Homo sapiens: one gene and its partner. The protein of the gene in region 1 interacts with the protein of each later gene in a pairwise test. Each region holds a gene or a part of one and is shown on either strand. Other genes may lie near its edges.

Evidence for each region. The genes of interacting proteins can lie anywhere in the genome.
Region 2: the proteins of PMP22 (region 1) and CD69 interact in binary tests that used the Homo sapiens proteins (3 or more experiments, as listed by UniProt).

The regions. Positions count from the first base shown.
Region 1 is NC_000017.11:15,234,327-15,239,103, reverse strand, and holds part of PMP22 (peripheral myelin protein 22), read left to right. Parts: intron 1-1,222; exon of another isoform or gene 1,223-1,319; intron 1,320-3,819; coding exon of another isoform or gene 3,820-3,857; exon of another isoform or gene 3,858-3,885; intron 3,886-4,777. UniProt on the Homo sapiens protein: Might be involved in growth regulation, and in myelinization in the peripheral nervous system.
Region 2 is NC_000012.12:9,754,375-9,759,104, forward strand, and holds part of CD69 (early activation antigen CD69), read right to left. Parts: intron 2,046-4,730; coding exon 1,923-2,045; intron 888-1,922; coding exon 688-887; intron 317-687; coding exon 213-316; intron 1-212. UniProt on the Homo sapiens protein: Transmembrane protein expressed mainly on T-cells resident in mucosa that plays an essential role in immune cell homeostasis.

The DNA of each region.
Region 1 (4,777 bases):
GTTTCTGTAGATTACATTATGCCTCCAGAAAATGGCCCTGATGTGCTAAGAACTAGCAAAGTAGTTATCAGGTATGTGTCTTCCACCAATAGGTAGTGATGAAGCCACACTGACAAATTCTCACCTTCCTTGCTTCCAGTTCCTAGATTCTACTGGGCTTTGATTGACTGTTGTCATCCTCTGGTGTCTTCATTTTGACACTCTTGTGTCACATATTGTCATTTCCAAACATGGGGCTATGACAACACATGAAAACACATGAGAGGTCTCCTTAATCTCCTGCCTAAACTGTCTTCAAGTTCCCTCTTTAAATACGTTATTAATATGCATAGTGTGCAGAGTCCTAGAAACTTCTGTTACACAGGGTGACATCTTCCAACTTTGTCTCTGGATTCTGCCTAGCATCTTACATGCTTACATCTTACATCTTACATCTTACATCTTGCATTCTGCCTAGCATCTTACATTAGCTCTTACATGTCTGTCTGTTGACTTACTGTTGACTGAACCAGCAGGGCATTGGAGAGAAGTAAGAGCTAGATGTAGTGGTGGATTCTGTGGTCCAAATTCATAGATCACAAACTTCATATGTACCAGAGTATGTCTAGGTACTGGGAGATGTTCTCAATTCTGACCCTCTGAGAGGGCAAAGGATGTAGCATCTCTTCTCTGAGTTGGTTGTCAGAATGCCCATGGTACCATTTCACCACTCTGTCCCCAGGAGCAGTCATTGGAAGGTTGACGTAAATAGGGTTGTATGGGAAGACACAGCCCAAGGTTAGATGTTGGTGACCTTGTCTAGAAGACAGAGAGTTCCCCTTTCCTGAAAAAAGGAAGTAAATGATTAACCACTTCTCATTAAACACTCAAATACAACATTTCAATACTCATGGTTTTGAGATTTCAAAACCAGACAGTGCTTTGCTACTTACACATGTCTTATGACACCAAGCCAAGCTCCTGGATGGTTGCTGGCTCTGTTAAATGACTAATTATGCAAGGAGATATCATTTCTAGGTACGTTAAAGTGAAGAGTTACCCTTACTCAATTTTCAGTTGGAATAAAAACAACTGTAACATATTCTGGGGTTTCTTTTTTTTTTTCTCACTCGTTTTAGTTTGATATCAAATCAAATAATGATCATATCCATTGCATCAGTGGATATGCCCTCAAGATAATATGGATTTAGAACCAGAACTTTCATAATGTATTTCTATTGAAATGTTAGTTTCATAAGCGATGATTGGGTTTTCATGCCCATGTGTGAGATGTGCCTCGCTCAAACCTTGTTATGATTTGGCACGTTACCCATCTGATGTGAAAAAAATTACATTTTATTTGTACAGGCTCGTTATTTTACTGATGAATAATTTGAGCCCACCAGAGGATAAATGAATGACCAAGGTCACCCAGCTCATGACAGGGACGGTTGAGTGTTACACTGAATATAGTGAGGTACTTCTTATATTTTAAAGACAGAATGCACCAAAAAATTTAAAGAACACAAAATCCAAGGCAGAAGCTCTGCCTTTTATATTATCTTTTATTGGAACTGATTTACAATGGAAGGTAAATGCAAATTTGCACCATGTATTATTCTGAAGTTCCAAACATCTGTGATGAATACAAGCCTGTACTATAAGACCCAGTCACATTGAAAATATGGAGCTGAGAAGAGGTAAGCTGCTGTTGAATGGGCTCCTTGGGATAGCCAGTACCTTCATCTTCATTCATCCTGCTGAGCTGTTTCGGCTTTAAGTTCTTTAACAATGTCTTTTTAGCAACATCATTACATCATTTTAGGCCAAAACTCAAAGTCCAGAGATAAGAACCCTTAAGTCACTCATGTAACTGCACTGTGTGTTAAAAGTATTTCAGTTCAGCCAAACACTCTTCTCCTAGGTATTGCGATTTAAGTATATTTACTAATCCACTCTTGCTTCACTATTTTCATTCTCCTCCAAAGTCAATACAAGATGTTTAGAACTGTGCTGGAAGTGCAGAATTCCGAATGTAAAAGCGCATGACTTTGTCCTCTTTATCCCCTTTACATCTAGCTGCTTACGTCTCATGAAACTGAATTTTCAGTTATCTGTTGGTCCACATTTGAATAAGAAATTATCTTGAATTTGAAATGCTGAGCTGTAATAGCAGTTGTAATTTGTAAGTCCTGAGAGTGTCCTGTCCTCCGTTGTTAATCCCAGTCAAGATCATCTGAGAGTTGGTCTCCAGGGAACCTCAGATCTCTAGGATGTTGCACTGGAAATGGCTGCAGGATCTTTCCACTAATTCTGAGAACTGAAAGAGTTAGGAACTCTATTTGGAGAGTTCCTGGTTCCCTTATCGTGTGACAGTTCTAAGTCAATTTTGTCATGTGGTTTTCTGACTCACAGACTAGTAAGAAGTTAGTAATTAGAGAGCTAAGTAGATTAGGGTTGTTGGAGATGAGAAACCCACGTTTTGGGAAAACCTGGCAAGTGACAACTTAACATCAAGGAAGTAGTCAGAAAAGCTAAAACTGACAAACAGAAGGTAGAAGAAAGTAGCTCCACACTCATGGGATGTGAAATCTACAAGCGTGCATGCCCGGCAAATGCCTCTCCAATGCACTGGAGCGTTTTAAGTGGAAACCACTAGAATCTCTGTGTAGTCTCCGGAAGTGGCTGTGAGGGCTGCATTATCTCTGCACAGCTTCCTCTTGGTGGGCCCAGCTGTGATCTTTATGGATGGCACACATCAGCTTTCAGGAAAAGCACATGAAAGGTGCTAGGGCTCTTGGAGCTGACTGTAGGTTTGGGAGTTGTCTGTCTCCTTGCTCTAGATTACAGCTCTGTGTGTTGTGTGGGGTCTCCATGGTTTGCCAAATTATCTCTTCCTCACTTAGCCACAAGGCTGACAGTTAGGAACTATCTCTTCTTGATTGCATTAGGTTGGCTGCTTCCTGAATGCATATCAAAAGGCTCCTTCCTTTAGTTCAGTGCTTTCAACCTGAGCTGTGCATCAGAATCACCTGAGGTCCTTTAAAAAAAAAAAAAAGACAGTGGGCGGGGCGCAGTGGCTCACGCCTGTAATCCCAGCACTTTGGGAGGCTGAGGTGGGCAGATCACTTGAGGTCAGGAGTTCAAGACCAGCCCGGCCAACATGGTGAAACCCTGTCTCTACTAAAAATAAAAATAAAAAAATAGCCAGGCGTGGTGGTGCGTGCCTGTAGTCCCAGCTACTTGGGAAACTGAGGCAGAGAAGAATCACTTGAACCTAGGAGGTGGAGGTTGCAGTGAGCCAAGATCATGCCACTGCACTCCAGCCTGGGGGTGACAGAGTAAGACTGTCTCAAAAAAAAAGAAAAAAGAAAAGAAAAAAGACAGTATTCAGGTCTCATCCCTGGAGACTCTCATTTAATAGTTGTGGGATGGATCCACTGCCTAGGTGACTCTGATGTGCATTTAGGGTTGGGAACCACTGACATAGCCATTAAACTGTCCCTAATCCCACTGTAAGGTTTTCTAGGATATTTTCCCAGAAATAACTAAACCACCTTCTTAGAGAAGGAACATCCTGATCCTGCGTCTGGACTTTGGAGTCATTCTTATTTTCAGAACCTATAGCCATCTATTCCTTGACAAGATCTGTTGGGTTGGGTTGCACTAGACTGGAAAACATCAAGAAATTAATCTAGACACAGACCTAAAAGGAAGATTTGCACGTTTTGATTTATTTTACTGCTTACACCCAGCATCAAGCTCCATGTGGGGCACATAGAGGAGCCTGAATAAAACTATTATTGGTTGGATGATTAGATAATTGTGTTTCCTCGGCAGAATCAAACTCAAGTCAAATGTGTGGTTACCGGGATTAAGAACAGAAAGAATAGAGGGGACTCCTGAGTGAGTTTCACTTTCTCTCTCTTTTTGTTATTGTTGTTCATTTGTTTTGTTAATAGAAAGATCAATATAGCTATAGAGCATTTAAAATAAAAGGATTTGGGCCAGGTGTGGTGGCGAATGCCTGTAATCCCAACACTTTGAAAGACTGAGGTGAGAGGATTGCTTAAAGCCAGGAGTTCAAGACCAGCCTGGGCAACAAAGCGAGATGCCATCTCTACAAAAAATGATTTAAAAATTAGTGGGGTGCCTTGGAGCACGCCTGTGGTCCCAGCTATTCAGGAGGCTGAGGCAGGAGGATTGCTTGAGGCTGAGAGGTCAAGACTACAGTGAACTATGATCAGGCCCCTGCACTTGCTCCAGCCTGGTGACAGAGTGAGACCCTGCCTCTCTAGGAAAAAAAAAAAAAGAATTTGGTGGGGGGGGATTAATAAAAGTTCAGTGCCATCCTGTTCAGAGTGATTCAAAGGTGGCTTAAGTCAAATACCACATTTAGAAATTTTTGTTAGGGACGGATGATTATGGATGTCTCACTGGCCATGCCCAAATCAGAGTCAATGCTATGGGTGGCTTTCTAGGCAGCAATGGTCATTTGGATACTGAAAATGTAAAAGGAGTGGGCTTCAATCACAGAAACACAGAGAAGTCTCTTGCTTTCAGAGGAACAGGCCTCACAGCCCCTTCCTGCCCTCCCTTGTTGCCCTGAGGATGAAGTGGGAGGGAGAAAAAGGCACCCACTCATCAACCCAACATCATAGCTGCACCTTCCAGTGACCACCCTGGTGGTCTCACTGACATCCCTTTCCAGCCAACTTCTCTCTGACTTCTGCCCCAGGCTCTCAAATGAAAGTGCTTTTGCGAGGTTACCAAAGTACACTTTGAAGTCTTTAATTTG
Region 2 (4,730 bases), on another chromosome or scaffold:
CATTTATTTTATGTATTATAAGTGTGGATAAAGAAAAAGAATAATAATAAAGCCTGTTATTAAAGAATTCCAGAGTATACGCATTCAGAAGAGATTGTTAGAGCTCTTGAAGAGCTCAGCCTTTATATTTAAAGTGCTTTGAAAGGAGAAAAGGAAAGTGATTTTCCTGAGATGCCACCCTGGGGAATATAAAGAGACTTCTGGAGACTTACCAGTTGTTAAATTCTTTGCCATTTGACCACTTCCATGGGTGACCAGGTTCCTTTTTCAGTCCAACCCAGTGTTCCTCTCTACCTGCGTATCGTTTTAGAAAGTTCTTAAAGAAAGCACAAAGGAGTTTGTTACATTAAACACCCTTCTGGGGAAGTAGATAGTAAATCCTGTTTCTCAAAAGCTGCAACTTGAGGCATGACAGCTTATCTGACCATGTACTCATTCTATATAGGATCAGCATATTTGGATTTCTGGTCTTTGAAGCTAAGCAATCAAATCAAATTTAAAAGATTAAATTAAATCTCATTTTGACCTCAGGCTGATCATATGGTTCTCTGGGATGACATTTTCCTACATCTGAAATAGGTACAATGTTTGTTTGTTTGTTTGTTTTCTCCACTTAGAAACGGAAGGAAAGCACTGATTAGCCATATGAATTAAAATAGTAGTATTTTATCTTTTTTTTATTCTTACCATGTCCTTTTCAGAATCAATGACAGCAAGAGTAGCACCATGTTCAGAACAAGCATTTTGGGCTGAAGTCCAGCTCCTCTTCACAGTAGAAATAAAGTAGCATTTCCTCTGGTAGCCAACCCAGTCCTCAGAGCATGAAGAAACATGGCTGTCTGATGGCATTGAGAATGTGTATTGGCCTGGACAATTGTATTGGCCCACTGTGAACAGAAAAATGCTTTGTTTTAGTAACAAAAGAAACCAAATACCCACAGCATGCAAAACTAGCCTTAGGATGCTATGTTGTGCTAGGTGGTGATAAAGTAAAGGATAAAAGCTAAAAAGTAGAATTCTGAAAAGGGTATGAAGAAAGAAAGTTCTCAGGACCATATCTGATCTTCCATTGTGCCTAATCATCATTGGATGGAGATATGAGGATGAGGGGATGTACTTTTGGTCATAATGTCAGAAAATGACAGAAATATAGAACAATTCTGAAAATTTGGACTAGATATTTCTTTGGACTAGAAAGGATAAAGTGCATTATACATTTCAAATAAGGTTTTGAATCTGAATGCAGAGGCGGAAGAATTTGAAGATGCAGTATTTATAGCACTAGGCTGGAAAGATGGAGAGAGTAACTAACTTTTAGGGAACCAATTCAAAATACAGAAAGACATATGACTCAGAATATCTCAAAACAATGGTAAACATTCCCATTTGTAAAAGATACAAATATATCTTGGTACAGCTGGAGGTATTGAATACCAAATCACTACTGACTCTCTGGGAACTTTTAAATATAATCTTAATTATTCAGAACTACCATTCTGTGTCCTTTGAGATAAAACACAAAAGACTGGCCACTTCCTGATTAATCTATGGCTTTAGATACGATTTTTTTCCATAATCAATGAATGTGAAGTTCACATTTTTTTCTAGCTAAATAGGTATTTATTCAGAATTCAAATCAGCTCCCTTCATTCTAGATGTAAACATCTTTTCAAATGCAATTTTATTCTACAGTAATATATAAATCATAGATACTTTTAATACTTATAAAAGTATTACATTAATTATTCAAGGATTGTGGAATTATGTTTAGTATTGATTAGGAAATTGGCCATATATGGTACATGGGATGATTCTGAATTAGCTAGTTTCTGATTAACTAGACTAAACTAATATTGATTTCAGCTGGGCATGAATGCTTACAGCTAGGAGGCTTTGAAAGAATTGATGAAGTGTAGACCCACCTGATAAGGCAATGAGAGCTATGATTAAAATGGTGATGAAGACCACATTCATTACAGCACACAGGACAGGAACTTGGAAGGACCCTTCATGACGTGTTGAGAAATGGGGACTGGTGGCATCATCTGGAAGGGAGAAAGTTGATGATGAGTTCAGGCAGACTATAGAAGTACTATAGGAATATGCAACATTCTTTTGAGGCATTTAAACTTAATATTTCCTATCTCATTATATGAAATTTCCCCGTCTCTTTATAGAAATTTCTAAGTTAATTTACCCCCAATTTTGAGTGAATTTGAATAGTTTATTGTTGGCTTGAAATGAAACAATTCAAGCATAATGATGAGATTATAAAGTGTCTCCCCAAAATATTTACCTGACACATATGATTTATACACTTAGTAACTATGAAAATTCTAAGTATATAATCAGTTTGTTTTAATGATGATAAGAACGTTTATTAAATATGCACATGCCCCAGAAGACACATAAAAAAATTCTAGGGCATGGTGGCTCACACCTGTAATCTCAGCATTTTGGGAGGCCGAGGTGAGTGGATTGATCACCTGAGCTCAGGAGTTCAAGACCATCATGAGCAACATGGTGAAACCCTGTCTCCACCAAAAATACAAAAAATTAGCTGGTCATGGTGGCACGCACTTGTGTTCCCAGCTACTTGGGAGTCTGAAGTGGGAGGATCGCTTTAGCCTGGGAGGCAGAGGTTGCTGTGAGCGGAGATTGCACCACTGCACTCTAACCTGAGTGACAGAGTGAGACCTTGTCTAAAAAAATAAATAAATAAATAAATAAAAAATTCTAGCATAATTCCTTAATCTCCTTGTAGTTACTGTTTGAGAGAAATGATGTGAATGGGATAAATATGGATAATATCATAAAGTAAAATATTGAATTGCTATATAAATATCTGACATTAAAATGACTGAACAAAATTTTAAACGTGACAGTATTTTTTGGTGAAGTTGCTGCAGATGTGGAGCAACTGGAATTTTCAGATATTATTGGTGGGAGAGTAAATTGGAAAAACACTTTGGAAACTGTTTCTTATAAAATTAAATATATGCCTTTTCTATGGCCCAACAAACCTACTCCTATGTATATCCTCAAGAAAAATGAAAATATGTTCTCAAAATGCCTTGTGCAAGAATGCTCCTAGCAGCTTTATTCTTAAGAGCCAAATTCCAGAAATAATCCAAATATCCACCAACAGGAAAATAAGTGAACAAATTATGGTATATCCATACAAGGGAATTCCGCTCAGCAATTCAAAATAAGACAACTGATACATGCAACAAAATGAAGGAATCTCCAAAAAAAATGTTGAGTGAAAAAAAATCCAGCCACAGAAGATTGTATACTACATATTTGCATTTACATGACTTTAAATAATAGTTGGTCTAAGCTCTGGTGTCAAAAATCAGAACAGTAGTTGCCTTTGTGTGTGTAGGAAAGGTAATTTAACTGGAATGGGACACAGGGCAAACTGTCTAGGGTGATGGAAAGATTCAAATGTTGCTGGTCTTGTGGTTATACCACTGTCATAAGTCGTTAAACTGTATACCTACGAGCTGTGCATTCATCGTATGTGAACTAAACCTCAATTTAAAATGATATGTGAATGAACAGTAAAAATTTGAATTTTTCAAAAGATGTTAAAATAATAGAGGAAATGTAACAGTATTATAGACCAAATATTCAGCGAAAGTTATTTCATTTACCCTCTGTACAATGGTGAAACAAAGTAAAAGCCTTTTTTTTTCCCAACAAGCAGTGTTTCTATGGAAGGATTTAGAATAAAAATATGATGTTAACGATAACTGATAGTTACAAAAAACTCTAAGAGGATGTCTGTTCTACACTCTAAGTAAATAACTGAGGAAGGAGAAAAGAGAATTTTGCGACTTAGATTTTGGATTTTAATTTTGCAGGATGAGCTGTCAGGAGTCTTAAAATGCGGCCCCACAAGGAGTATACAGGTCCCTATTATGTTCTCAAAAACCAAAATGTAAAATGGCTGCTTAAGTAACTGACAATGCAAAACAGTTTCAAAATAGAAAACATTCTATTTTTCAATATGGATGATTTTCATAACTTAAAAAAGTTTACATAAGACATATCTTGAAATACACATATTTTTACCCTTAAAACATTTATCTAAAGGTAAACTGGACCAAGAGAAGTTGCCTTTTTTTCACAGTAATTTACTGGGTACTGGTGTCCACATCAACTTTTGCTTTATCTGGAAGTTATTTTTCCCATCACAGATCGGCACTCAGATTTTGCAAGAGAAGCCTTTACTTCACTGCCGTCTAGCTCGATTTTCTCAGCTTCTCAAAGCAAATTTTTCTTTGTTCACCGGTATAGAATCATCATTGGAAGCCGCCTTTGCTACCCAAGGTACCAAGTTCGGAGCTCTGTCTGGTTTCACTTCACATTATGTGAGTCAGTCGTGCTGCTTGAACTCAGTATTGCAACAGCTCTGTCTCCTCAGTGAGCACTAACACACCCCAGTGACCCGTGGGTTCCAGAGTCTCAGTCAGCCCATCGGCTCAACGAGGGAGTAAGCTTTGGGATGACTCTCAGATGATACTTTATTCCCATTAATGAGGGCTACTGTTTTATTTATTTATTTTTTGAGACGGAGTCTCGCTCTGTCGTCCAGGCTGGAGTGCAGTTGCGTGATCTCGGCTCACTGCAAGCTCCGCCTCCCGGGTTCACGCCATTCTCCTGCCTCAGCCTCCTAAGTAGCTGGGACTACAGGCGCCCGCCCCCACGCCCGGCTAACTTTTTGT